Regions from separate parts of the Homo sapiens genome. Here regions 1 and 2 are each linked to region 3. Evidence: fine-mapped expression QTL. A gene starts in region 3. Each other region holds a variant in brackets. All regions are shown on one strand. Distances are between the middles of the regions.

Region 1 (9,922 bases), 120 kb after region 3:
TGATTATGCAACACAAACCCTAGATCTCCTTAAGCTTCAACATCAGACTCACTATTCTCACAAAGATATTTTCCATGTTATGAATTTTTTATCTAGTCTGCACAATGCTGTCTCAAGTTTTTTTATATATTGCTTTAGAATTAAAACTAACAATCTAATTTCCGTACCACTAGCCACCTCTTTTCTTAACTTCCTAATTAGTAAAACACTGTTTTTCTAGCCTGCTATAGTCATCTTTGAGTCCATGTTTTTCTTTTATCATAGGGAGTATTCTGTATGCTTTGTCCTAGCAGTTGGTTATTTACTAGTTTTTATTGATCTAATCTATAAAATGGCCCTTTAAAATGTTTCTTTTGTCTACTTTGTTCCTTCTCATTTCCATTGTTACCATTCAAGTCCAAGACTTTATTACCTCTTAACTAAATATTCCAGTAGCCTAAATGTTTTCATCTATAGCTTCTTTGTCACCATCATCCATTCTGAATATTGTTGCTACATCAGTGCCATTTTCTTGCATGAAAAGTTTCCAGTGGTTCCTCCCAGCAAACAGAATCAAGTCCATATTCTTTAGCTTGGCATTCAGTGTAATAATCCAAGATTTAGTTACAACTTTGTTTTAACTCATCTATTATGAAAACCTTCCTCTGTAGCAAAACCGGTTGTCTTATTGTTCCATTGAACAAGCTTTGCTCATTCTTGGCTCTATACGAGTAATTCTCAACCTTAACTGAACATCGTAATTTCCTTTAAAACTTAAAAATACACAGAATCTCTGAGTCTTAGTCCTGGACATCAATGTTTTTCTTTTTTTTTTTAAAGCTCCACAATGAATGTAATGAAGAGTCAAGGCTGGGAACCCCTTCTCTGTTCCTTGGTGGTGTTCCTTCTTACCTGAAATACCTTTCTCCTTCGTCTTTGCATGCTAATTTTTACATTTTTCTCTGAGCTCTCCAGCTGACTTTGAACTTTTTCTGTTTCAACTTTCTCTATTACTTATTTCTATGCTACTTACCCAGTGCTAGAGTACAGGTTACCTTACATTATTTTTTTTTTAGATGTGTATCTTTCCAAATAAGAACAATATCGGCTGGGCACAGTGGTTCATGTGTGTAATGCCAGCACTTCGGGAGGCCAAGGCGGGTGTATCACTTGGGGTCAGGCATTCAAGACCAGCCTGGCCAACATGTGAAACCCCATCTCTACTAAAAATACAAAAATTAGCCTGGCGTGGTGGGATGTGCCTGTAGTCCCAGCTACTCAGGGGGCTGAGGAAGGAGAAGCGCTTGAACCCAGGAGGCAGAGGTTGCAGTTAGCCGAGATCACACCACTGCATTCCAGCCTGGGCCACAGAGCGAGACTCTGTCTCAAAAAAAATAACAACAAAAAACAAATAAGAACAAGATGATAATGGTTTCTACTTCCTCATAGAACCAAGAACAGTTCCTTTTACTAAGTAAATATCTGTTTATCATTTTGTCAGTTTGAATAATTCTTTGTTTCATATATCCCTTGTTTTTGTACCTGGTAGAGTGGAATAAGATTTTATTAAATGTTTATTGATAGAATGAATAAAATAGATCTGCTTGAGTGTAATAAATGTGTAAGTGTAACAGACTTTAAATTTATTTACTTCTTTTTTATTTCTATTTATTTATTTTTTTTTTTGAGACGGAGTCTTGCTCTGTCGCCCAGGCTGGAGTGCAGTGGTGCGATCTCAGCTCACTGCAAGCTCTGCCTCCCAGGTTCACGCTGTTCTCTTGTGTCAGCCTCCCGAGGACCTGGGACTACAGGTGCCTGCCACCACTCCCGGTTAATTTTTTGTGTTTTTAGTAGAGACAGGGTTTCACCGTGTTAACCAGGATGGTCTTGATCTCCTGACCTCATGATCCTCCTGCCTTGACCTCCCAAAGTGCTGGGATTACAGGCATGAGCCACCGCGCCTGGCCTTTATTTACTTCTTAGTATATTAACATTCAGCTTTCAAATTTAGGTTTTTATAAAGCAATTCCATTTCTTTTTTTGTATTTTCCTTAAAAGATTTAAGTGACAAAATTTGGAGAACACATATACTTAGCTTGTATTTGTGATTAAATAGGATTTAATCAAAGATCTCAAATCAGAGTTAAGTGGAAATATGGAAGAACTGATCCTGGCCCTCTTCATGCCTCCTACGTATTACGATGCCTGGAGCTTACGGAAAGCAATGCAGGTACTACTATATGTCATTTATTATGAATATTTTGTCCTATTTCATATGTAAAACCGTACAAATTATGACAGTTCTGAATTTACAGTGGTAATTAAAGCAATTCTTTATTTCACATCATCCATCTGAATATATAGTTTTTAGTTCTACAGAACAAAGAAATATTTGACGAAGATTTAATTACTTGCAGAAATTTCATTTTTCTTTGTATAATCTTCCCTTCATTTCATGTAGGGAGCAGGAACTCAGGAACGTGTATTGATTGAGATTTTGTGCACAAGAACAAATCAGGAAATCCGAGAAATTGTCAGATGTTATCAGTCAGAATTTGGACGAGACCTTGAAAAGGACATTAGGTCAGATACATCAGGACATTTTGAACGTTTACTTGTGTCCATGTGCCAGGTGAGTATAGTATGAATGCTTGTGCGTTGATAGAGGGAACATACTTTAAAAGCCTTTTGCCAGTGAGCATTCTTTATTCCTTTTAATATTTAGCCACCTTGCAATATTGCCATCTTTAAGAGGGACAACACAGAAACCAGTGTACAGATTTCTTTGTAGTTACTATTGAGATTTATTCCTGTAAATCTGGCTTTTGTAAGGAATTAGAGATTTAACCTCTAAGGTTGTATGGAATCAGAAACCAATTCGAGGCTCTGTGGCTGGGATGGGGATGAAACTGTACATTTGAGCTTATCACTATCCTGCCCATTATGCCCCACCATCAAGTGAAGATGTGCAGGACTGCCATAGAGGTGCTACAGGAAGTGAGGACTATGTGAGGAGACCCAGAAATGCAGAAAAATGTTTTAGGGTTCCCAGTAATAACTGTGATTAGCACCTTCTTTATTTTGATTCCCCAGGTGTGCTGGAGAATTGACAGAAAATACTCCAAATAGGGTATTTGGAATGGCATTAGAAACACACTTAGGGCCAGACATTGTGCCTCACACCTGTAATTCCAGCACTTTTGGAGGCCAAGGCAGGAGGATTGCTTGAGGCCAGGAGTTTGAAGCCAGCTTGGGTACCATAGCAAGAAACCATCTCTATAAAAAATATTTTTAAAAATTAGCCGAACATGGTGGTATGTGCCTGTAGTGCCAGCTATTCAGGAAGTTCAGTGGGAGGATCACTTGAGCCCAGGAGATTGAGGCTGCAGTGAACTGTGATCGCACCACTGCATTCCAGCCTGGGCAATAGAGTGAGATCCTGTCCTTAAAAAAAAGAAAAGAAAAAAAGAAAAGAAGCACACTTAGATGATGAAGGTGTATTTGAAAGAGATTATGTAAATGACTAGCATGCTGATTCAATATCAAGAGTTATTGCCTATTGTGCTAGTGCACAAGATTGGACCATCTGGAGGGATCTAAAGGAGAGGAGGGGCTCTTAAGAGCCAAGGGAGGGGCTGGGTGTGGTGGTTCATGTCTGTAATCCCAGTACTTTGGGAGGCTGAGGCGGGTGGATCACCTGAGGTCAGGAGTTTGAGACCAGCCTGACCAACATGGTGAAACTCCATCTCTACTAAATACAAAAAATTAGCCAGGAGTGGTGGCACCTGTAATCCCAGCTACCTGGGAGGCTGAGGCAGCAGAATCGCTTGAACCCGGGAGGCAGAGGTTGCAGTGAGCTGAGATTGTGCCATTGCACTCCAGCCTGGGTAACAAGAGCAAAACTCCATCTAAAAAAAAAAAAAGGGAGGTAGCTGTGGAAAGGATAGTGGATATGGAAATGAGAAAGCAAAGTAAATGGGTTGAAGGAAATTGAATTTACCTAAATCAGAGTAACAGGAGGGCAGTAGGTTAGGATTTAAAAGAAACAAGAAGGAAAACAGACAATGCTAAAAAATGGCTATTAAGATTTTACATGAGGTGCTGAGTCTCTCTTTATGCAGAGTTCAAGGCCCAGCCCTACCTTTTCCAGGGCATGAGTAGAGGAGTAACTTCCTGAGAAAGTGTGTGTGAATCCAAAGGCAATAATCTGGGAAATTTTTTGTGAGTACCTTTTCCTGTGTTATATTCAGTCGCCCATGTAGAATGTGCCTCTACGTATTCCTTGTGCCAGTTGCTCAGAAGACAGTTCTTCAGCTTCAAGGAGGATTTTTCCATCTTATTCCAAAGATGGTCCCTGAGACTCTAAAAGGCAGCCTTTTCTTGTTTGGGTTTGTCTTTCTGTTTTTGAGAGAAACCAACTGCTCATTAAGCTTAAACTCTTCCTTCCTCCTTCCTTTCTTCCTATTCCAGGGAAGAGTGTGGTATACAAATAGGCACAGTCTAACAGAACATGAGTTATTTGTAGCTGCTTCTGTAAAGCTTATGTGTCATTTTTATGCGTGTATTTATGGTAAATACTTACATATTAAGATTATAATTCGATGGCTGAGTGTGGTGGTGTGAGCTTATAGTCCCAGCTACTCTGGAGGCTGAGGTAGGAGGATCACTTGAACCCAGGAGTTTGAGGCTATGATCATGTCTGCAAATAGCCATTGCACCCCAGCCTGGGCAACATAGTGAAATCGTGTCTCTTAAAAAAAAATATTATACTCAGATGAAGAAAAGAAAGTTTATGAAGCCTCCATATTATATCCTCCCTC[C/T]CTCCTGCCCTAGAGTTAAATTTCTTGAGGGCAGAGACCCTGTCTCTCCTGTGTCCCTACCGCTTAACACAGTGCCTGACACAAAGAAAGTGCTTAATGTCTCTTAGTCGCATGAATGAATAAAAAGTAGAACTCAGTACAGTGCATATTGATCTTAAATTCCAGCTAAGAGAGCTGTTTCTTCATTTGAGTGGTAGTTAATATCTCCTAGTAGAGATATTTTTGTTTAAACATTTTGGGTTTAATTTAGCTCCCAAAAGCCCTCATTTTTAACATAACCTCATTAAACCGTGATCTTATATTATAAAATCCAGTTGACAGTATAATAAATTACTAGTTATATTTCCATGCATAGAAATGAAGCATATGCATGACAGACATTATGGATTAATCTTTAATAAATTATCTCTTTAGGCCAGGCCCAGTGGCTTACATCTATAATCCCAGCACTTTAGGAGGCTAAGGCAGGAGGATCACTTAAGCCCAGGAGTTAGAGACCAGCACCTGGGCAACATAGTGAGACATGCTGTCTCTACAAAAAATAAAAAAATTAACCAGGCATGGTCGTTTGTGCCTGTAGTCCCAGCTATCTGGGAGGCTGAGGTGGAAGGATCACTTGAGCCTAGGAGGTTGATACTGCACTCCAGCCTGAGTGACAGAGCAAGACCCTATCTCAAAAAAAAAAGAAATAGTCTCTTTAAATCCAAAAGTGAACTAGATTGGAAAAAAAAAATTTAGTAGAACTATTATTTATTTCTTCCAATTCCTGCCTTTCTCTTTTGCAGGGAAATCGTGATGAGAACCAGAGTATAAACCACCAAATGGCTCAGGAAGATGCTCAGCGTCTCTATCAAGCTGGTGAGGGGAGACTAGGGACCGATGAATCTTGCTTTAACATGATCCTTGCCACAAGAAGCTTTCCTCAGCTGAGAGCTACCATGGAGGCTTATTCTAGGGTATGAGCTTTTCTTTTGAAGATTTGGCTTCTGCTGTAAGATACAAAAATATTTAACCCTTTAATTTTGTTTGCAGATGGCTAATCGAGACTTGTTAAGCAGTGTGAGCCGTGAGTTTTCCGGATATGTAGAAAGTGGTTTGAAGACCATCTGTAAGATATTTTTGTGCTTTGCTTTATTTTCTTTTTAAATGAGTGGGAGCTTTGAATAGTTGTTCCCATTAAATGTTGATAATATAGTCCACGTGGAATCTGCTTAGGCAGTAGCTGATCTAATCCTTTGGGGTTTGTTTTTTGTTGTTTGTTTTCTTTATTGGATAAGCCCCCAGAAACAGTCCTGTGTTTTTACATACAATTTCCTATGAATGGTAGTTCTGTGATCAAACAGGGCTGTTTGGGGATTATTTGGCCTTCATCTGTAGGCCTGTCTTGATAACTGTGCCAGAATACCTGATAGTTGTAGCACTTCCTTTAAAGAGAAAGGGAAAGTCCTGAGGAACTCACAGTGTCACCACGAAGCAGTTTGAGTCCTCAAAACAGATATTTCAGGTACTCAGCCCAGTGAGACTCATTTCCTTTTTGAAGTTAACCAGTTTCTGGTGGTCTAATACACAGATGTCTAACAAAGTGAAAGTTTCATTCTCATGGATATTAGGACTAAGGGGAGTATTAGTAACACTTTGGTATTAACAATGGAATGTTGGGCCAGGGGCAGTAGCTCACACTTGTAGTCCCAGCTACTCAGAAGGCTGAGGTGGGAGGATCACCTGAGTCTGGGAGGCTACAGTCAGCCATGATTGCACCACTGCACTCTAGGCTGGATGACAGAGTGAGAACCTGTCTCAAAAAAAATCAAGGAGAGCATCTGAACACTCTTAACTCACCCCATGTTTCTGTGATGATTACAGAGAAAATAATCAAAGGCAGGCTATAAGTGATAAATGAAGCTGGAGGGGTACACTTCTTGTGAGATCATGATTCCATGTCTCAACCATCTCTAACTTGCAGTGCAGTGTGCCCTGAACCGCCCTGCCTTCTTTGCTGAGAGGCTCTACTATGCTATGAAAGGTGCTGGCACAGATGACTCCACCCTGGTCCGGATTGTGGTCACTCGAAGTGAGGTGAGGCAGGCCTCTCTCTTTTTGTCGGGTCTTACTTGATGTTCAATGTTGATTTCTTAAAAGTTCCCCAGTTGGTTGTCAGTCCCTCAAAAATGATAAGAAAGAGCTCTCTTTGCCACCTAAAAGAGGTGGTATAAAGAACAGAAAATTCACTTTCCTCATGCTGTGGGAGAAGCTTGCATTAGTGAAATAGGCCACTCTACCCTAATGAAGATAATACTAACAGATTTTACAACTTGAGAACGTCAATGGAGAATACAAATTTATGGGAAGTTAGACATTTGTCTTTCGATTTTCATTTTGCTTATATAAAAATTAGATGAAAGGCCTATGTAGATTAATCCTAGTGGATATCAACATTATTTAAATTTAGCATCCTTTATTAATAATAAAACAATTTTTAAAATATTCATAATTGTCTCAAGTATAGCCTCATTTTTAAAAATTGTACTTTATATATTTACTCCACTTACAAAAAATTTTTTTTCTCAGAAGAAATGACATTTGAATTTTTTTTTTTTTTTTTTTTTTTTGAGACATGGTCTCACTCTGTCACCCAGACTGGAGTGCAGTGGCACGATCTCAGCTCACTGCAACCTCCACTTCCTGGGTTCAAGCAATTCTGTCACCTCAGCCTCTCGAGTAGCTGGGACTACAGGTGTGCGCCACCATGCCCAGCTAAGTTTTTGTATTTTTTTGGTAGAGATGGGGTTTCACCATGTTGGCCAGGCTGGTCTCGAACTCCTGACCTCAAGTGATCCACCTGCCTCGGCCTCCCAAAGTGCTGGGATCACAGGCGTGAGCCACCACGCCTGGCCTGAACTTTTAATTGAAAGAAAACATGGCGGGGTGTCGTGGCTTACTCCTGTAATCTCAGCAGTTTGGGAGGCCAAGGCGGGAGGATTGCTTGAGCCCAGGAGTTTGAGACCAGCCTGGGCAACATGGTGAAACCTATTTCTACAAAAAACACACGCGCGCGCACACACACACACACACACACACACACGCCGGGGCGTGGTAGCCTGGGCAACATGGTGAAACCTATTTATACAAAAAATACACACACACACACACACACACACACGGTGAAACCTATTTATACAAAAAATACACACACACACACACACACACACACACCCACACCCACCCCCCGGCATGGTAGTCCCAGCTACCCAGAATGTTGAGGTGGAAGGATCACCTGAGCCTGGAAGGTCAAGGCTGCAGTGAGCCGTGATCGCACCACTACACTCCAGCCTTGGTGACAGAGACCCTGTGTCAAAAAAATACCCTAAATTATTATTATTATTGCGTGTTTTTTTTTTTTTTTTTTTTTTTTTTTTTGAGATGGAGTCTCGCTCTGTCACCCAGGCTGAAATACAGTGGCATAATCTCGGCTTACTGCAACCTCTGCCTCCCGGGTTCAAGTGATTCTCCTGCCTCAGCCTCCTGAGTAGCTGGGATTACAGGTGCGTGCCACCATGCCTGGCTAATTTTTTTGTGTTTTTAGTAGAGACTGGGTTTCACCATGTTGGTCAGGCTGGTCTCGAACTCCTGACCTGATGATCCGTCTGCCTCGGCCTCCCAAAGTGCTGGGATTATAGGCATGAGCCACCACACCCGGCCAAAAACCCTAAATTATACTAAAGAAGGTAGATTATTTTTAAAGAAAACAACCAGAATATGGTATTTTGAAAAAAACTTTGTTCTTTAACTTAAATTTTCAAAGCAGGATGTTTTAAGTTGTGATAAAATATACATAACATAAAAATTTACCATTTTTAAGTAGCAGTAAGTACATTCACATTGTTATGCAACCATCATTACCATTCACCTTCAGATGTTTTTTCAACTTGCAAAACTGAAAATCCATACTCCTTAAACAGTAACTCCCCATTCTCCTTTCTCCCAACTGCTGGCAACAAACCATGTGACTTTCTGTGCCTGTGTTTGACTACTCTAGGTACGTCATATTGGTGGAATCATACAATATTTGTCTTTTTGTGAGTGTTGTCTTTTACTTAGCATAGCGTCCTCAAGGTTTATTCATGTTATAGCATGTCAGAATTTCCTTCCTTTTGAGACTGAGTAATTAAATAGTCTATTGTACGTGTATCCCACCTTTTGGTTTTTTTTTTAATTCATCTGTGACACTTGGTTTGTTTCTGCCTGAATAATGCTGCTATGAACATGGATGTACAAATATCTGTTCAAGTCTACTTTCACTTATTTTGAATATACCCAGAAGTGGAATTTCTAGGTCATATTGTAATTCTTTGGAAGTGTTTTTGTTTTGCTTTGAGGAATTAACCATATTAGTTTCCACAGCAGCTGCACCCTTTTACTTTTCCATCAACCTGTGTACAAGTGTTCCCATTTCATGGCATCCTTGCCAATACTTACTATTTTTTTGGTTTTGATAATAGCCATCCTATCAAATGTTTTTAAATGACTAATATCTTTGGAATAATAGATGAAACTAGTACTACCCTGACCAAGTATTTTACAGAGCTGTGAATCAGACCTTCATTGGGTAGTGCTAGCATTGGTATGAGTGCCAGCCATAAAATGTCAGTCACTTGGTGTTTTCCCCCCCAAGTTTTGATTATTATTAAGATCTTATTATTTAAAAAGAATTTTAAGAAATGTCAGTTGTCACAGATGTTTTTCTGACAGAAATATTATTTCTTATGCAGATTGACCTTGTACAAATAAAACAGATGTTCGCTCAGATGTATCAGAAGACTCTGGGCACAATGATTGCAGGTGACACGAGTGGAGATTACCGAAGACTTCTTCTGGCTATTGTGGGCCAGTAGGAGGGATTTTTTTTTTTTTAATGAAAAAAAATTTCTATTCATAGCTTATCCTTCAGAGCAATGACCTGCATGCAGCAATATCAAACATCAGCTAACCGAAAGAGCTTTCTGTCAAGGACCGTATCAGGGTAATGTGCTTGGTTTGCACATGTTGTTATTGCCTTAATTCTAATTTTATTTTGTTCTCTACATACAATCAATGTAAAGCCATATCACAATGATACAGTAATA
Region 2 (9,922 bases), 140 kb before region 3:
ACTTGTGCCCAGGTGTTCAAGTCCAGCCTGGGCAACATAGTGAGACCCCCATCTCTAAAATAAAGAAAGAAATAATTTTTTAAAAAGCCAGCTAGGCACAGTGGCTCACGCCTATAATCCTAGCACTTTGGGAGGCTAAGACAGGAGGATTGCTTGAGCCCAGGTGTTTGAGACCAGCCTGGGAAACATAGTGAAACCCTGTCTCTACAAAACATATGAAAATTAGCTGGGCGTGGTGGCATGTACCAGCAGCCCTAGCTACCTGGGAGGCTGAGGTCGAAGGATTACCTGAGCCTGGGGAGGCTGAGGTTGCAGTGAGCCAAAATTGTGCCACTGCACTTCAGCACAGGCAACAGAGTGAGACCCTGTCTCAAATAAATAAATAAATAAATAAAGCCACTTCCTCAGGTAGCAGCAACAGGGTTGTGGTGGCTGCAGCAGAAGTGCTGCAGCAACTGGTTCCAGAATCTAAGCAGAAGGTGGAGGAAGATCATGCAGCTACTGAAGAAGGGCCTGGGGAAATGATAGGCTTTCCCCAAAGGGGCTTTCAAGCCTGTGGCCCTGCCCAGAGACTCCGCTGGAACAGTACAAATGGCACAGTCCAGATCCTATGTGGTATGTGCTCCCTTTGCAGGAAATCTCAAGTAGAAACCTCAGAGAGCCTGTAATCCCAGCACTTCGGGAGGCTGAGATGGATGGATCACGAGGTCAGGAGATCGAGACTATCCTGGCTAACACGGTGAAACCCCATCTCTACTAAAAATACAAAAAAAAATTTAGCCGGGCGTGTTGGTGGGCGCCTGTAGTCCCAGCTACTCGGGAGGCTGAGGCAGGAGAATGGCGTGAACCTGGGAGGTGGAGCTTGCAGTGAGCCGAGATTGCGCCACTGCACTCCAGCCTGGGCAACAGAGCGAGACTCCGTCTCAAAAAAAAAAAAAAAAAAGAAGAAGAAAAGAAACCTCAGAGAGCCTATATGTGCTTCTCAGGGAGACATCGATGTCTATCCCGCACAGCAGGTTGAACTGAGCATCTCAACAGCAAATGGAGGTTAAAAGGCAGATCCTGGCTGGGCGTGGTGGCTAGAGAATAACTCCTTAGAGACCAGATCCTGGCGGTGGCTCACGCCTGTAATTCCAACATTTTGCGAGGCCAATGTGGGTGGATCACCTGAGGTCAGGAGTTTGAGACCAGCCTGGCCAACGTGGTGAAACCCCGTCTCTACTAAAAATACAACAATTAGCCGGGCATGGTGGTGGACACCTGTAATCCCAGCTACTCAGTAGGCTGAGGCAGGAGAATTGCTTGAACCCAGGAGGTGGAGGTTGCAGTGAGCCGAGATCGCACCACTGCACTCCAGCCTGGGCAAAAAGAGCGAAACTCCATCTCAAAAAAAAAAAAAAAAAAATGCAGATCCAAGTGTTTGTCTTTTATTAAAACTGCCAGAGCTCAAGAGGAAAGAATAGGGAGTGAGGCAGACAGAATAATTGTCAAGTCTTCCCCACATCATTCCTTTGTAGGAGGTACTGGGTTTAGTTAATTTGGTCCCTTAACCTGCCAAGATCTAGCCCTTACCGAGAAAAGACCAACCTATCCAGGAACTTTAAAAGAGCAGTTCCACTGTGAAGACTTCCCTTTTTGTCCCCAAATATAGCACTTTAAGCCCTCCCTGCTCCAAATACACCCACAGGTCTCTCCACTCTGCCCTGGATTGGCTCTGTGTGGCCCTCAGGGCATGTTCCCCAGACTCTCTCTCTCTGACTGAATTCCTATCCAATACTTGCTGTCTACTTCCTGTCTCCCTCTCAGTCTTCAGTTTCTCCCTAAGTGCTTCTTTGGATCTCAGGCTCTAGGTGCAATGTGAAGGGGAGTCCCTGGGCAGACTGATCCCTGGCTCAGACAGTTCAGTGGGAGAATCCCAAAGGCCTTTTCCCTCCTTCCTGAGCCTCCGGGCAAGGAGGGAGGGATCTTGGTTCCAGGGTCTCAGTACCCCCTGTGCCATTTGAGCTGCTTGCGCTCATCATCTCTATTAATAACCAACTTCCCTCCCCCACTGCCAGTGCTGCCCCCACGCCTGCCCAGCTCGTGTTCTCCGGTCACAGCAGCTCAGTCCTCCAAAGCTGCTGGACCCCAGGGAGAGCTGACCACTGCCCGAGCAGCCGGTAAGTCTCCAGCTCTATCGTTAGAAAGGCTGGAGCCCACTGTGTTGACTTCTGTGTCTGTGTCTACAATTGTGATTCTTGATCCTGGGGGAGTCTCCCCTCTCCTCATCTATGCTCAGCTCCCAGCTGTCCAGTTGGAAGGAGAGGGGAAGGAGAGTTGGAAGGAGAGGGGCCCAGGAGGTTGGGGGGAATGGAGATGTCGGGGGAGGCACTGGAAGAATGGGAAGGGAGACCCCACTAAGTCAGTAGAGTTGCAGATGTATTTTTTGAGACAGGACTTAGAAGAGGACAGCATTTCACTGAGTGCCAACTTCTCTTAAGAAGGGATTGGAGTCCATCTTATCCCAGTTTGTCCCTTTCCATTGCCAGATCCTATTACTATGTTTCTGCCCCACCTCAATTCCCCACTGCTATGATATTGCTGAATTGACGTGTCGGGATTTGAATGCTCCCTACCCTTCCCAGTTCCACACCTGCCTCCACTCTGGGGTCTGTGGCGGGAGTGATTGCAGGAGCAGGGCCATGACTTCCCAGGCCATGTTCCAGCTGGCCTGATGAAGGAGCAACAACCTCTCCTTCCTATGGAGAGTGTTTTTGGCTGAATCTCCTCAACCCTGGCAGAATATTTCTCTGTCCTCCTGGGGACTGGGGGAAGACTGAGGAGAGACCAGAGCCTGGAATCACAGCCCCAGTCTGATATCCCAGTGCAAATAAAAACTTCAAATCATGCCAAGCCAATGAAACCTGGGTGCATTGCCCTGCTTGTGTTATTGTTTTTTAAACACTCCCCACACCTAGCTATGTTCCTAATTCCTGCACTGACTCTATGAAAAACAGCTCACAACAGGTTGGTAGACAACAGGGGCTGGTGTGCATCTATACTTCCTGTCCTGTATCCCAAGAAAAGAGAAGCCCTAAAGCGCAAGTTTTCACCTTTTGGGGAAATACATGCTTCTTTGAAAATCTGGGTCAGGTGAAGTGGCTCACCCCTGTAATCTCAGCACTTTGGGAGGCAGGAGGACTGCTTGAGCCCAGGAGTTTGAGACCAGCCTGGGCAACATGGCAAAACCACATTTCTACAAAAAATACAAAAATTAGCCAGGCACGGTGGTGCGCACCTATAGTCCCAGCTACTTGGGAGGCTGAAGTTGGAGGATCACCTGAGCCCAGGGAGGTTGAGGCTGCAGTGAGGCATGATTGTGCCATTGCACTCCAGCCTGGGCGACAGAGTGAGATCCTGTCTCTAAAAAAGAAAAAAAAATTTTTTTGTCCCCTCAAGCCCTTAAACCCAGGTTAAGAAGTGCTGCTCTCCTACAGACACTCACTCTTCCCAGTCCCTGTCCATCCACCAACTCCTCCTTCCCACCCTGTCCAGGCTGAATCCACCTCCACAATGCCGCTCTCAGGAACCCCGGCCCCTAATAAGAAGAGGAAATCCAGCAAGCTGATCATGGAACTCACTGGAGGTAGGACATGTTTGCATCTCCCTAGTGTGGGACTTCTTAAGAGCATCCCTAAACCAAGAGTCCCAGAAATATATATCTTAGGGTGAACAAACAAGAGAAATTAAGTGGTGGGAAGGCGGGTGATGGGGAGTGGGAGAGGGAAGATTAAGAAGGGTAAGGAGAAAGAGAGAAAAGATTCAACACCTTCTACCCTTTTCACTTCATAATCTGAGACAATACCCTGCCATGTTACCTGCACAGGTCCAGGACCACAGGACCCATGAGTCAGTGAGGTATATTTGAGGAAGAAAATATAATGGAGACTGGCACAGACTCAGGTCTCAATAAGTGGTTAATTTCCCTTACTTCTTTCCCCAGAGCTAGGGAGCTTGTGTAAGTACTTAAAATGGAAAACTGCACAGGCATGTTTCCTGGGGGTGGGCAGGGGTGCATGCATGTGAAGAGCTCTTCAATACCTAGAGACTCTTTGGAGCCAGAGCTCACTGAGGGAAAGAAAAGGGAAAGTAGTTAAGACAGAAGTCTGGGCCAGGTGCAGTGGCTCACGCCTGTAATCCCAGAACTTTGGGAGGCCAAGGCTGGTGGATCGCTTGAACTCAGGGGTTTGAGACTGGCCTAGGCACATGGTAAAACCTCGTCTCTACAAAAAGTACAAAAATTAGCCAGGTGTAGTGGCATGTGCCTAGAGTCCCAGCTACTCCAGAGGCTGAGGTGGGACGATCGCTTGAACCCGGGAGGTGGAGGCTGCCGTGAGCCATGATTGCGACGCTACCCTCCAGCCTGGGTGACAGAGTTCATCCTAAGATATATTTATTTTGTCTCAAAATAAATAATACAAATAGGGCTGGGGCTGTGTCTCATACCTGTAATCGCAGCACTTTGGGAGGCTGAGGTGAGAGGACCACTTGAGCCCAGGAGTTCAAGACCAGCCTGGACAACATAATGAGACCTCATTTCCATTAAAAAAAAAAAAAAAAAAAAAGTCCAGGCGTGGTGGCTCATGCCTGTAATCCCAGCACTTTGGGAGGCTGAGGTGGGCCAATCATCTGAGGTCAGAAGTTCAAGACCAGCCCGGCCAACATGGTGAAACCCTGTCTCTACAAAAATAGAAAAATTAACTGGGCATGGTGCCGGGTGCCTGTAATCCCGGCTACTTGGGAGACTGAGGGAGGAGAATCACTTGAACCCAGGAGATGGAGGTTGCAGTGAGCTGCAATCGCGCCATTGCACTTCAGCCTGGGAGACAGAGCAAGTCTCTGACTCAATAAATAAATAAATAAATAAATAAATAAATAAATAAATAAATAAAATGTAGGCTGGGCGCCACGGCTCACGCCTGTCATCCCAGCATTTTGGGAGGCCGTGGCTGGTAGGTCAGTTGAGCTCAGGAGTTTGCGACCAGCCTGGCCAACATGGTGAAACCCCATCCCTACCAAAAAATATAAAAATCAGCCAGGGATGGTGGTGCAGGCCTGCAATCCCAGCGACCTGGGAGGCTGAGGCAGGAGAATTGCTTGAACCTGGGAGGCGGAGGCTGCAGTGAGCTGAGATCGCGCCATTCCAC[TC/C]CAGCCTGGATGATAGAGCAGGACTCTGTCTCAAAAAAATGAAAAAAAAGAATAAAAAATAAAAACAAATATATATATATATATATATATGGCATCTGTATTTGGACTCCACACAAGATTGGCCTCTGGGTTTTTCCTGATGCCATGGTTTCTCCAATGGCCTCCATCTATGATGTTCCTTTACTCCTTTTGCTCTGTACCCCATGCCCGTACCTCTTTTACCCCATTGGCCTCTCCACTCTAGTATTCCCATTATCTCCACAGTGCACCCCAGTTCCCATGCATTCTCTCCAAGTCCCAGGAAATCAAAATCCCTCACAAACTAGACAGCATTTGTTCCCCTAAATGACCTCTGCCAGGACACACATACACACTTAGTTGTGGATGAGGTCTGCATTCTGAGCCCAGAAAACCCTACTTTCCTCTTTCCCTTGATTCTTCTTCTTTGCCTCCCTGAAAGGTGGACAGGAGAGCTCAGGCTTGAACCTGGGCAAAAAGATCAGTGTCCCAAGGGATGTGATGTTGGAGGAACTGTCGCTGCTTACCAACCGGGGCTCCAAGATGTTCAAACTGCGGCAGATGAGGGTGGAGAAGTTTATTTATGAGAACCACCCTGATGTTTTCTCTGACAGCTCAATGGTGAGTCTGGAACTTTATCACTATCTCAAAGCCTGGTGCCTGTTCTGACAGCTTGTTAGTAGGCCCTGAACCTCCAAAATGCAGTCAACATCCCCTCCCTGAAAATTTATAAATTTGTTAAACCCCCAGATATATTGAGCCCGCAACAGCTCCAGGGTGAGTTACAGCCCACCTCTGAAACCCAGTTTTCATCATAGAGCCACTGAAGGGTTGGAGAATACCACACCCTTAGGGAGAAAATTCCTTCCCAGTAAAGGTAAGTGTTAAAGATAGATTGCCAGATAAAACACAGGATGCCCAGTGGGGCAGTCCAGTCTTGTATTTTGAAGTTGAGATACACAATGAATAATTTTTTAGTGAAGTATGCTCCATGCAATATTTGGGACATAAAGATAAAAATTTAAAAAAATTTTAGAAAGAAGATAAGGCAGCCAGGCATGGTGGCTCACACCTGTAATCCCAGCACTTTGGGAGGCCGAGGCAGGTGGGTCACCTGAGGTCAGGAGTTTGAGACCAGCCTGGCCAACATGGTGAAACCCCCATCTCTACTAAAAATACAAAAAATTAGCTGGGCGTGGTCGTGGGTTCCTGTGATCCCAGGTACTCAGGAGGCTGAGGCAGGAGAATCACTTGAACCCAGGAGGTGGAGTTGCAGTGAGCCCAGATTGTGCCACTGCACTCCAGCCTGGGCAACAAGAGTGAAACTCTGTCTCAAAAAAAAAAAAAAAAGAAAGAAAAAAGAAAAAAGGAAGAAGATAAGGCAAAGAATAAAATTGAAATTTTAAAATACAGAATATACAATTAAATTTGAGTTTCAGATGCACAATGAATTCTTTTTTAAATATGTCCCATGCAATATTTGGGACATTAAAATAAAAATACAGGATGTCCACTTAAATTTGAATTTCAGATGCAAATGAATAATTTTTTTAGTATAAGTAAGTCCCAAGCAATATTTGGAGGCATATCTATACTAAAAAAGTATTTGGGTCAAGTGTGGTAGCTCACACCTGTAATCCCAGCACTTTGGGATGCCAAGGCAAGAGGACTGCTTGAGTCCAGGAGTTGGAGACCAGCCTGGGCAACATGGCAAGACTCTGTTTCTACAAAAAATTAAAAAGTTAGCTGGGTCTGGTGGCGCACACCTGTAATCCCAGCTACTCTGGAGGGTGAGGTGGGAGGATGGCTTGAGCCTGGAAGGTAGAGGATGCATGAACATGAGCCATGTTCACACCACTGCACTCCAGCCTGGGTGACAGAGAACCCATCTAAAAAAAAAAAATAAAAATTTGTTGTGCATCTGAAATTCAAATTTAAGTGGTATCCTATATTTGATTTGCTAAATCTGGCAACCCTAGAAAGAGTTAATTGAGTTTTTACAGCCACCTCCCATTTGAGCCATTCTTCCATTTAAAGGGTCAGTCTATTCCCTAAGAAGCCCCAGGTGTGGAGACTGAAACGGTCCTTCAAGATATATTCTAGTCAGGCTCCTTCTCCAAAGAAAGAGGAGACTGGAGAGGGGCCAGGCACAGGATGGTATAGCTGAGGAAGAAGGGCCTTCTCCATTTCCTTTCTTCCTCCTCCACCCTCTCTGAGTGGCTGGGGGAGAGTGGAAATAGATGCCTGCATGGGGCCGGGGGCAGAAGTGTCTGTCATTGGTCCTCATATAGGAGCAGAGTAAAAGTGCTGAGCTGCTCATATCTAACTTTAGGAGGCCAAAAGCACTCTTCTCTGCCTGGGTCTGGTTACACTGGGTGGAGCATTGGGGTGTACATGGTGGGATGGCCAGGAGAGCCTCCTGAAGAAGTTGGTGGGGTTATTTTTAGGCTTTGGGTTTGCATCTAATGTTGCCCTTTTGGCCACACTTCCCCCCACCTGCTACAGTGTCACTGTCACCAGTGAGGTCCAACAGGCACCAAGAGGAGAGAGGAAGAGAAAGAAGGAGAGAGAAGAGAGTTCTGACTGTTGGACAAGCTGAGGAAGGGAGGGGGCAGAATTTCTCTAGTCCTTGTAATTAAGACTGGGTGCTCCATGGCAACCCCATCCTCCCAAATTTTAGTTGGGGCTGGACACAGCTCATGCCTGTTATCTCAGCACTTTGGGAGGCTGAGGCAGATGGATCACTTGAGCCCAGGAGTTTGAGACCAGCCTGGGCACATGGCAAACCCTGTCTCTAGGAAAAAAAAAAATACAAAATTTAGCTGGGTGTGGTAGCATGCCAGTAGTCCCAGCTACTTGAGAGGCTGAGGTGGGAGGATTGCCTGAGCCAGGGAGGTGGAGGTTGCAGTGAGCCGAGATTGTGTCACTGCACTCCAACCTGGGTGACAGAGCCAGATTCTGTCTCAAAAAGCAAAAGAATTTTTTTTCATTTTTTTTTTTTAAAGCTGGGCAGGCGTGTTGGTCTTTTTTGACTTGTTAAGGATGAGAAAGGGGAGTGTGGAGAACACGCTGCCCTTACCCTAGGTATAACTGGAGGAAACGAGCCAAGGGAGTCCTACCTCTTAAGAAGAGTTTAATTCGGGCTGGGTGCGGTGGCTAACGCCTGTAATCCCGGCACTTTGGGAGGCCGAGGTGGGTGGATCATCTGAGGTCGGAGTTTGAGACCAGCCGGACCAACGTGCAGAAACCCCACCTCTACTAAAAATATATCAAATTAGCCGGGTGTGATGGTGCATGCCTGTAATCCCAGCTACTCGGGAGGCTGAGGCTGGGAATTGCTTGAACCTGGAAGGCTGAGGTTGCGGTGAGCCGAGATCGTGCCATCACACTCCAGCCTGGGCAACAAGGGCGAAACTCTGTCTAAAAAAAACCACAAAAAATCAAACAAACAAAAAGAAGAGTTTAATTCTCTTAGTCAGCCCATGTACTACCCATCAACTGGAGGGGGAAATATCAGAAAATTCAGGGTCTTCTGGTTAGCCACTATTTCTGCCTTTGCTAAACATACCTCTGTTTTTGTATATTTTCCATACCCATTGCTAACCTTCCCCTCACTTTGTCTTCTTTTCAGGATCACTTCCAGAAGTTCCTTCCAACAGTGGGGGGACAGCTGGGCACAGCTGGTCAGGGATTCTCATACAGCAAGAGCAACGGCAGAGGCGGCAGCCAGGCAGGGGGCAGTGGCTCTGCCGGACAGTATGGCTCTGATCAGCAGCACCATCTGGGCTCTGGGTCTGGAGCTGGGGGTACAGGTGGTCCCGCGGGCCAGGCTGGCAGAGGAGGAGCTGCTGGCACAGCAGGGGTTGGTGAGACAGGATCAGGCAAGTACACTCACCCAAGAGTAATGTGTTTGGTCCCTAGAGCAGAGTTGTCCCAGGAATGATGTCTACGCTGAGTGTGGGGAGCAGAGGAGGTCAGTTTAAATATCTTAATATTAAATATAATAATATCAGTTTAAATATCATAAATATCTTGGTGAATTACCTGGGTCCAGGAGTATATAGAGATGTGTCTATTCTACCCAGAAGCCTTGTTTTTCAGTTACTTTCCTGGCTTTTCGGATTCAGTCACAGATCTGCCCACAGACTATCATTATGCCACAAACCTTATACAATTACCAGGATATTATATCTTTAGTCCCTGGCTCTTGCAATTTCCCTAGTGTAGGGGCGTGGGATTACCTTTCATTGGCTACTAAATGCTATTATTTGACTGAATTTTCTCTCCCATGGCTACCAGGAGACCAGGCAGGCGGAGAAGGAAAACATATCACTGTGTTCAAGACCTATATTTCCCCATGGGAGCGAGCCATGGGGGTTGACCCCCAGCAAAAAATGGAACTTGGCATTGACCTGCTGGCCTATGGGGCCAAAGCTGAACTTCCCAAATATAAGTCCTTCAACAGGTAGGGGTGGTGAGGAAGGAACCAGATGCATTCTAGTGTGAGGCACTGTGTCTTTAGTTAGGATGGAGACTAATTCAAATGTTTCAGAAGGAGGCTAAGGAGAGATGGCAGGGATATGGGGGTCCTAATCAAAGGCCCTGCTCTTTTCACTCTATCTCAGCTTCATCATAGCAGTGTGATGAAGGAAAAAATTTGCTGGGAGGCAGGATTTGAATTCTAGCTCAATGGTCATTTATTAGCTGTGTAGGCATG
Region 3 (9,922 bases):
AAGGCTGTTGCAGTAGTCCAGGTGAATTTAAATATAAAACCCATAGGTAGAAATGATAGTCCTTGGCAAGTAATGGAATTGTGGATGGGAAGTGGGAAATCAAGGTCATTGCCAATGTTTGAATATGGGTGATTTAGGAAAATGAGGTGCCAGGAGGAGGAGTTTGGAAGGATTTTGGTTCAATTTTGGATATGTTAGTGTTTCAGATGTTAAAGGGGAATATTTCTGGGTATTTATCATAAAAGTAGATAACTAATAGGGAGTAGAGCAGGACATTAGCATCAGTAAATACAAACTTGACAGGCAAAAGAGGAAGCTGTGGAATGTGTAGCAGTGACAGGAGAGAAGATGGGGTAGAGTTCTTGATTCTACATTTAAACATATATAGTTTCATTCCCAGTACTTAGAATAAGTGAAGGATTTTTTTTTCTCATTCTCTCAGGCTTTCTGAATTTCTCATATTTCGTTTTTATTTTTAAATTTCTATCTCAATCTCTCTAATTCTACTGTTAGCATTAAGGAGTTTGCTAAAGACCTGAATGATAGGGTTGGGAAGGTGAGGGATATGAGGAAGACTGGTTAAGGGATAAGGATCTGAAGTTTGCAGTTTCTTAGAGGGCTAGCAGGGAGAGCAACTGAGTAAATTGGGTCCTGTTCCAGAACAAGGCATGTAGGCATGTTTGTGCTCTGGTTCCCTCCATTTCCCTTTGCTTGCCTCACTGTGTTTACCCAACTACATCCTGCTTTGTGTTAATCCTCATCTCTATGTTTTTTTGTCTTGTCTCATTATAAGGATTCATCAAACGTGAGGAAGCCTTTGGAAACCGGGCACCGTTGTTCCAGCTCCTCTTCCCTCCCTGTCATCCATGACCCTTCTGTGTTTCTCCTCGGTCCCCAACTCTACCTTCCCCAACCACAGTTCCTGTCCCCAGATGTCCTGATGCCCACCATGGCAGGGGAGCCCAATAGACTCCCAGGTAACTCCCCCAAATCTAATATTATATGCCAGAATTTGGTACCTTTTCAGGGGCCTCCAAGGGTCAAATCAGTATACCTATGGGGAGGGGGGTATCCCAAGGTGGAGTGGTGTGAAGATATGAATTACTGCTTCAAAGTCGTGCATTTATCTAGATAAATATTAAATCATTTGTTGGGCACCATGATTCTTAGACCAAGGGTTTAGACCAGCACCCCTAGAGTCTGTCTACTTACGAAAATGACCTGCTTCAGTCATGACAGAATAAGCTTTTAACTGACAAAGGGGAGTTAATACCCAGTCTTTGGGACATCCCCAGAACAGAAATGGTCATCTCTCCTTCTATCCTCTGAGCTAGTTTTCTCCCCTTCTATCCTCTGAGTCTCAGCTGAGGGATGGTCTAGGAAGATAAGGAATGAGTGGGAGAATTGGAAAGACCCTTTACATGGAGTACCCACACCATGTGTACAGACCCAGACAATTGTGGGGAAGGTGGGCAATATCATTTTGGCTTTCTTTGACCTTCCGAGTGAGATGTTCTCTTTTTTCCCCTCATGCACTGGATGTACAAGCTTGAGGCAGTGGTTCTCAATGGATAAAGGGGATGTACCACCGGTATCTAGTGGGTAGAGGCCAGGGATGTCCTCAACAGCACAGCCATTATTGTCACTTGCTCAGTTGTTGTTGTAAACCCTCAGAGTCAGCTGAACTATTTTAGGCCAAACATACTGTTTTTGCAAAGTATTTTTCATTAATAAATCACACAATGCACAGGGCAGTCTCTCCCCAACCCCAACAAAGAATTATCAGCCCAAGATACCAAGAGTGCCAAAGTTGAATAAATGTATAAGAAAAGGCATTCCACATTAGATCTCAGAGATCAAACAAAGGCAGCTTAACTGAAGTGAAGGTAACATTTTAAGAAAAGTTGGAGAAACAAAAAAAAAGCAAGGCACAGCGTCTCACACCTGTAATTCCAGCACTTTGGGAGGCCAAGATGGGAGGATGACTTGAGTCCAGCAGTTCGAGACCAGCCTGGGCAACACAGTGAGATCCCGTCTCTATTTTTTTTAAAAAGAAAAGCTGCGTGAGGTTTTGGTATGGTGGCTCTAGGAGTATAGTCATCACAAAGGGAGTATACGTTTGCCATATATTGCTATATATTAGGGAGCCCTTCTTTTGTAGGTGTGTGTATAGTGGATGAGAGATTATAGTGGAGGGAGGTAGAGGTATGGCAACATCCATGAGACTGTTTCATTTGCCCAGGTTGGAGGTATGAGATTTGATTTTGATGTATATTAAGAATTTTAAGAAATGGAATCAAAAGCACAGCTTGATTCATTCTTTCCCTTGTATGTATGCTCTTGGAGGAGTAGGGAATTGGGCTACACAGCTAGGCATGGCTCTCTGGGAAGGAGAATGGTTTTCTGAAGATGCTCAGTCTTTGGGTTTCTTTTCTTTCCCCAGGAACTTCAAGGAGTGTCCAGCAGTTTCTGGCTATGTGTGACAGGGGTGAAACTTCCCAAGGGGCCAAGTACACAGGAAGGACTTTGAACTACCAGAGCCTCCCCCATCGCTCCAGAACAGACAACTCCTGGGCACCCTGGTCAGAGACCAACCAGCATATTGGGACCAGATTCCTGACTACTCCAGGGTGCAATCCTCAACTAACCTACACTGCCACACTACCAGAAAGAAGCAAGGGCCTTCAGGTTCCTCACACTCAGTCCTGGAGTGATCTTTTCCATTCACCCTCCCACCCTCCCATTGTTCATCCTGTGTACCCACCATCTAGCAGTCTTCATGTACCCCTGAGGTCAGCTTGGAATTCAGATCCTGTTCCAGGGTCCCGAACCCCTGGTCCTCGAAGAGTAGATATGCCCCCAGATGATGACTGGAGGCAAAGCAGTTATGCCTCCCACTCTGGACACAGGAGAACAGTGGGAGAGGGGTTTCTGTTTGTTCTATCAGATGCTCCCAGAAGAGAGCAGATCAGGGCTAGAGTCCTGCAGCACAGTCAATGGTAAAGGTTATTCCTTTCCTTTCCTGGAGCTACACCTTTCTTTGTAAAACTGTACTGTGGGCCGGGCGCGGTGGCTCACACCTGTAATCCCAGCACTTTGGGAGGCTGAGGCGGGTGGATCACGAGGTCAGGAGATTGAGACCATCCTGGCCAACATGGTGAAACCCCGTCTCTACCAAAATACAAAAAATTAGCCAGGCGTGACGGTGCGTGCCTGTAGTCCCAACTACTCGGAAGGCTGAGGCAGGAGAATTGCTTGAACCCGGGAGGCAGAGGTTGCAGTGAGCCGAGATCGCACCACTGCACTCCAGCTTGGCAATAGAGTGAGACTCCATCTCAAAAAACAAAACAAAACAACAACAAAATAAACTACTGTGGCAGCGTTGGTACCCTGCATCACTGCCATGGTTGTGCTATTCTCATCTCAACATAGAATTGGTGGGTTCTCCTAAGGGTGTCAGGAACCTCTAAAAAGATGTGATTCTTTGGGAGGGGATATTTGAAATTCCAACTTCCATTCCCCCTAGCAAAAGGAAGCAGCTGCTGTTTAAGGGTTTTATCTGAGCCACTTTAAAGATGAATCCATGGTATTACTCTGGATACTAGCCATTCCTTAGGATTTTAAGGTCACATTTTATTCCTGGATGCTTTATGTCCCCACCTCCACCTGAGCCCTCATCCTCTGTTCCCTACTATACTCCCAACTTCTACTCTTTGTTTTATCCACCTATCCCTATTACCTGACCCTTTGTCTTCCCTGTCTCCCATCCTTGGGGGGACATGTAGCCCTGTGGTCATGGTTCTGATGACATCATCAGGGCAGCCCCCCTGCCCAGGTATTATGGCCTGTCAGCATTCCCTGTGCCCTCCAAACCTTAGGCCTAGAATGCGGAGCTGCCAACATAACATTCACCCTTTTGAACAGATGGAGTCAGGCACACTAACACAGCCTTCTGTCCTCAATAACACAGCCATTATTGCCACTTGCTCAGTCGTCAATGTAAACCCTCAGAGTCAGCTGAACTATTTTAGGCCAAACATACTGTTTTTGTAAAGTATTTTTCATTAATAAATCTATAAGACAGTTCTATTTAATTCCTTGTCATTCTTCCCTTTGTATGCTCTTGCTTTCTTTGTATTGGGGCTGGAAGTCTGGATAAATATATGAAGTGGCTTTTGACTGAGTGGAAGTGAGGAGCCAGAGACGAGTTGAAGGATATACAATCAAGGTGGGAATCAATGGGTCCTAAAATAGGGTGCCTTTCCTTTCTAGTATTGCTGCTAGGATGTTTCCCATCCCTTTCCTGACAGAGCATTCAGTACTCAGTACATTATACACTTCCTTCCTCCCCTCCTTAGGAAGATTTTCTGGGGATTCAAGCTCTTCTTACAGACTCACTCCTGATCAATGTACTCCAGGTGCCTTCCCTCTATCTTATAAGTTTGTGACGTGCCTCCTGTCCCTTCCTTCCTCTCCTTCCGTGGGGGCCTCTCCCTTTCCCTTCCCCTGTGGTGTTATGGCCCTTCCATGCCAGAAAGATCCATTTTCACCTGTGCCTCACTCCCGAGACTCTTCCCTCTAAAAAATAGCTTGTGGGTTCCCTTTTTGGAAAAAATCCATTGTTGGGTCTTTCCCTTCCTCTTTTCCTGGGGTCTCAGGATAGAAATTGACACAAAGAAGAGGTAGAAAGGTACTCCTTGGACCTTCGGACTACTACTTACTTACCACCATGCATTATGAACAGATTCTGAGCACATGTATTATTGAGCAGGAGGATGGGCAGGAATTGGTTGTTCCATCCCACTTGGATCCTGCACCATCAAGATATATAGAGCTTAGTGGATATGCTGGTCCCTGTCCATGATTCAACATATCTCCTGGTGTCGTGGACACACTCATCTAATAATTTTTGATGAACAGTCAGTTCTTGCCCCTCTACCCCCTTTCCCATGAGTGTCAGTCACCGTGGTCTCTATAAAGGTTCCATAAGTCACCTGGGCCCAGATTCTGTGCATGTGCAGAAATAAGGAATTAATTTCCAATTCCCTATTTACTCCTCTGCCTTCCAGGAGGAGGTTGTATCCTTTTCAGGTGAATTCTTCAGATTCTTTGCACATCTCTTGGTGTCATCCCCTTTATTCCCCTTACCTGTTTTGACAAACTATGGCGCCTAAATTGCTCTAGCTGCAGTCTTATTCTGTGCTTTCAGACTCTTGACAATTCCAGACTCTAAACACAAAGGCCAGAATTCTCTTTCAAACTCCATTTTGGATGGTCCCTTCTCCACTCTAGAACCTACAATGCTTCCTCTATTCTCTGGTCCCCTACCAACCCTTCAGTATTCAGATCTGGTAGCTAAATCGTTATACATTTCTCTATTAGTAGGAGATCCTGAGGTTTAATCACGTCTTCTCAGTTTACTGGGAATGCCATGAGAGCGGGTGTGTTTCCTCGCAGTCGTTCGATCGCAGCACCTCCTCATTCTTCATTCTGCATGCAAAGAATTTTAACCTGATCCCTTGGCCTCGTCCTGTTTCTCTCCTAGCTTCAGTAATTTTGCCCAAGTCCCTAGAGCCTACCCCGCCCCCACCCCCGCACGCGCAGTGCATGCCGGTCTTAGCCCCTCTGTAGGGAAAGAGGGTCCGCCATGTTCCCCGGCGGCGCCGCCGCTTGGCTCTGGTAGCCGCCGCCCCCGCCCCCAACCCCGCCCGGCCCAGAGCCTAGCCGAGCCCCGGGCCCAGCATGGCCGCCCCGGAGCCGGCCCGGGCTGCACCGCCCCCACCCCCGCCCCCGCCGCCCCCTCCCGGGGCTGACCGCGTCGTCAAAGGTGAGAGGTGGACGAAACCCTGGGGGCCTGGCCTGAAGAGCTAGCTGTGTGTGAGGGCGGGCGGGAGACCGTCCCCTCGGGAGTGGGCCCGGAAGGGCGGGCGAGTGACTGGCTGCCTCCCTTGGGGAGTGGCCCCTGGGCGGGCCCCTGCTGGGCAGGGCTGAGTCGGTGGCAGTGGTTCCGCGGTCTCCCGGTTGCTTTCAGGCCGGGGCGGAGGTTTTGCTTCCGTGGCTTCCTAGCCCAAGGGGTGAGGCTGTTAGCTGCAGTGAGCCCGTTTTCTCTTCACTCGGCCTGTCAAAGCGGCGCAGGGGCCGCGATTAGCTTCCTGCCCCGCGACAGCTGCACTTCTGGCTTGCCGGGGCGAACCGAGGGGCTCGGAGACCTTCAGCCACGCGAGGCCCGCCAGTGAGCAGTCAGAAATCACCTCGGCTTTGGCCCACGCCTGCTCCCCGGTGACAGTCGTCCGCCCTATCCGCGTCTAGCTGGCGACAACCGCAGGGGTTCACTTTTGGCCGTCAGGTGCCACCCGGAGCAGAAATTAGGGGAACCTTGTGGGATTGGATCACGGTGAAGGGTCGGGGCAGGAATTGGAAGGCCAGCCTTTATAGTGCAGAAAGGGAGAAAAAGCAGCATAAACGAAAAAAAAAATTCTTGTGGATAGCAAGTATTTACTTAGAAAACCATCAACACTTTGGTCAAAAGGAGTTACCCCTCCCTTACAAACACACACCCACACATTCATCCTAGACGAAAAAGTTAAATGTTTCTCAGCCAGGGCAGAATTTATGGATGTTTACCCACAACAGGTCAGCAGATTAATTTAAAATAGAGAAATTGAGGGCTAATTGAGAGTTGCTTAAGATTCCAAGCTTCCTGGGAGAGCCTACCAACCTCAAACACTGCTGTGGAGGTGAAAAACAATTGAAATGATTCTCTTTACCATGTAGCTTGATTGATAAATTGAAATCGTAGAATGAACTTTTCCTTATTTGTATTGTATTTATTTTTAAAATATAGGTACTTTTGTTTTCATTCAGCTTCTCAAATACACTGGCACAGTATTTAAACACCGTTAGCCTACTTTTTGAAATCTGACTCATATGTTTCCATTAAAATATTTAAAAACAAGGAAACCTTTTTTCTTTTTTTTTTTTAATTAAAAATTTTCAACCTGAGCCTTCTTCGGTTCTTAAAAGAATAATACTAATTTGGCCTGGCGTGGTGGCTCACATCTGTAATCCCAGCACTTTCGGATGCTGAGGCAGGCGGATCGCTTGAACTCAGGAGTTGGAGACCAGCCTGGGCAACATGGCGAAACCTTTTCTCTACCAAAAATACAAAAAATAAAAATTAGCCGGGCATGGTGGCGCGCCCCTGTAGTCCCAGCGGATCGGGAGGCTGAGGCACGAGAATCACTGGAGCCCGAGAGGCAGAAGTTGCAGTGAGCCGAGATTTGCGCCAGTGTGCTCCAACCTGGACGACAGAGCCAGACCCTGTCTCCAAAAACAAAAACAAAAACAAAAACAAAACACTGATTTGCACCTAGGCTTAAGTTAGTAGTATATCCAGTTGGGCCAGGCATTGGAATGAGCTGAATAACGAGTTTATGGAATCCTTAATACAGAGAAATCTTAAAAAAAAAATAGTAATGCAGACATTCATTCTATCAAGAAATCCTGGAGTTTTGTGGGGGTGGGAACGGGACATTGGCTACCTCTTCATTTTCTGACTGTATTTCTGTGTTGTGTGTTCATTTCCCTGGGCACTTTTCACCAGACTGTTAGATGGGGTAACCAATCACATTCCTGAACAATGAGTTTATGCTATCCTTACGTTTGTGAATCTTCTTATTCCTTGTCATATATATGGTAATGTTTTTTCTGTACTGCTTTAATGCAGTGAAAATAAGATTCCAAACATAAGGCAGATTCCTTAGGGGTGAGTTGTGAGTCCAAGGCAGTCATATTTGCAGGTTATTGGTGTGGAATAAAAGCCATTTGATTTAGATAAATAGGAAAGGAGCTTGTTAATATAGAAAATTATAGTTAAATAAAGCTTATGGTTATCATATTTCTGGTGCTTCATTGTGCCCTCTTCATAGAGACAACTTTCATTTCTTTATGGAATTTGTTAACCAGTTGGAATTCCTGTATGGATTATATGTTTTAAAATGGTGTGTAACAGACTAATTTGCACTGCTCATGGAGTCTCCTGCATTTACTGGGAAATTCACCTTTCTTACAGATCCAGAAATTCACTTTTAAATTTCATCTTCAGGATTCTTCCTTGTCTTTTATTCAGTAATTATACTATAATGTGATACCTGATATTAGAGAATACTGGTTGCCTGATGATAAATGATGTGAGTTCAGCTTAAGTTTAACTTGTTAAAATCCAAATTTCTTTTAAGTCCACAATGTGGTGGTAGTTTTGTATCGATACATTTTCATAGTAGTGATATTATGGAGACTGTCTGTTGGCATTGAATGCAAGTAGTCTTTTTCTCCCTGGAATTTTTTTTTTTTTTTTGAGACGGAGTTTCACTCTTGTTGCCCAAGTGGAGTGCAGTGGCGCGATCTCTACTCACTGCAACCTCTGCCTCCTGGGTTCAAGCGATTCTCCTGCCTCAGCCTCCCGAGTAGCTGGGATTATAGGTGCGCGCCACCATGCCCGGTTAATTTTTTGTATTTTTTAGCAGAGACGGGGTTTCACCATGTTGGCCAGGCTGGTCTCAAACTCCTGACCTCATGATCCTCCCACCGTGGCCTCCCAAAGTGTTGGGATTACAGGCGTGAGCCACCGCGCCCGGCCTGCCTCCCTGGAACTTCTTAGTGTCAAAATTTTATACTCCATGCTTGTAGTCATAAGGCCTACATTTTATGGTCATGTAGGTTTTTAAGGGTGTATAGGTCTTTCTGTGTTTAAGATCAGATACCTGAAATTCACTTTTTGTGAAGTTTGGGAGCTTGGAATACTGTAGGTGATTCATGAGTAAATGTGATGAGCTTGTCACTAAAATTATTAGTGGTAATTCCATGTCATTGATTATGGGTCATTAGGTTTTTGGTTGATTAAATTCAGTTCTGAGCCTACTCCAGCTGCTGGCTCAAGTCAAATTCTTCCCCTGTTTGAAAGTTGATCTAACCCACCTGATTAAGCAAGATGGTATATACCCTTTTAATTATATTCTATTAAGCATTCTTTAGCTATGTAGGAAATAAGAAAGTGGAAAAAAATTAGGAAAAATATCTAACCGTATCTGCATGTGTGCTTTCTTACCACATCAGCAAAGCTGGTATAGGTAATTGAAGCACAAAATCCTGAATTTATATATATTGCTTTCCCTCCTCCCCACAAAGTTTACTTGACCTGAATTGCCCAGATACCTCCTTTTTTCCCCAGATACTTAAAAAATGTACGTTTTGCTTTGTATACCAGGTTCTAGATTTGTAAAGCTGGATTGTCTCTTGAGATTATCAAGACTGTTAGTATTAATAAAAAATTCACCTTTTTACTTAGAGAGCATTGTCAGTATTGGGCATATGTTCATTTTAGCACCTACAATGTGAGTCATTTTCTTAACATTATTTTATTTCATGGGTTATAGTAACCTCAAATTATCAGACTTTCAGATTGAACCAAAATGCTGAATTTATGTGTTTTAATTTTTTTTAAGCTAAAGTATTTCTGATTGACAACGTTAGAATTCATTTGGATTCTGTTGCCAGTTGCCCTGCTTATAAATCTGAAGTCATTTGGCTAAAGTGTTTTCTAGTAGCTTTCCTTTAGGAGGATTACTTTTTGTTTATTTATTTATTTATTTATTTATTTATTTTTGAGATGGAGTTTCGCTCTTCTTGCCTAGACTGGAGTGCAATGGCGCAATCTCGGCTCACTGCAACCTCCACCTCCCGGGTTCAAACGATTCTCCTGCCTCAACCTCCCAAGTAGCTGGGATTACAGGCATGTGCCACCACGCCCGGCTAATTTTGTATTTTTAGTAGAGACGACATTTCTCCATGTTGGTCAGGCTGGTCTCGATCTCCTGACCTCAGGTGATCCACCCACCCTGGCCTCCCAAAATGCTGGGATTAT

Direction of the effects. Alleles are on the strand shown, and positions count from the first base shown. SD is a standard deviation of normalised expression in the study named. Not every link is listed here.
With allele T in place of C in region 1, the expression in unexposed skin of the gene that starts at base 5,880 in region 3 is higher (moderate effect, 0.57 SD a copy in GTEx).

Evidence for each region. PIP is the estimated chance that this variant, and not a neighbour inherited with it, causes the effect.
Region 1: its variant is fine-mapped to the expression of PPP3CB-AS1 in unexposed skin (GTEx, PIP 0.96).
Region 2: its variant is fine-mapped to the expression of PPP3CB-AS1 in whole blood (INTERVAL, PIP 0.92).

What each region holds. Positions count from the first base shown.
Region 1 is chr10:73,375,864-73,385,785 of GRCh38, reverse strand. It overlaps ANXA7 (annexin A7), which reads left to right. Exons shown (of 13, transcript NM_001156.5): 8 at 2,096-2,209; 9 at 2,441-2,611; 10 at 5,585-5,755; 11 at 5,832-5,907; 12 at 6,763-6,875; 13 at 9,569-9,922. The coding sequence ends at 9,691. Among named protein-coding and RNA genes, the nearest start is that of CFAP70, 22 kb to the right of the region's middle. The variant C/T (reference allele first, on the strand shown) is at 4,800.
Region 2 is chr10:73,633,648-73,643,569 of GRCh38, reverse strand. It overlaps MYOZ1 (myozenin 1), which reads left to right and starts at 2,096. Exons shown (of 6, transcript NM_021245.4): 1 at 2,096-2,159; 2 at 3,535-3,625; 3 at 5,648-5,826; 4 at 8,837-9,086; 5 at 9,505-9,670. The coding sequence starts at 3,553. The variant TC/C (reference allele first, on the strand shown) is at 5,187.
Region 3 is chr10:73,491,710-73,501,631 of GRCh38, reverse strand. PPP3CB-AS1 (PPP3CB antisense RNA 1) reads right to left here and starts at 5,880. Exons shown (of 5, transcript NR_132104.1): 1 at 5,815-5,880; 2 at 5,149-5,490; 3 at 1,945-2,037. It overlaps PPP3CB (protein phosphatase 3 catalytic subunit beta), which reads left to right and starts at 5,608. Exons shown (of 14, transcript NM_021132.4): 1 at 5,608-5,827. The coding sequence starts at 5,743. It overlaps USP54 (ubiquitin specific peptidase 54), which reads left to right. Exons shown (of 24, transcript NM_001391956.1): 23 at 794-977; 24 at 2,444-4,094. The coding sequence ends at 3,003. RefSeq lists enhancers at 5,402-5,591, 6,082-6,541 and a silencer at 5,672-6,021.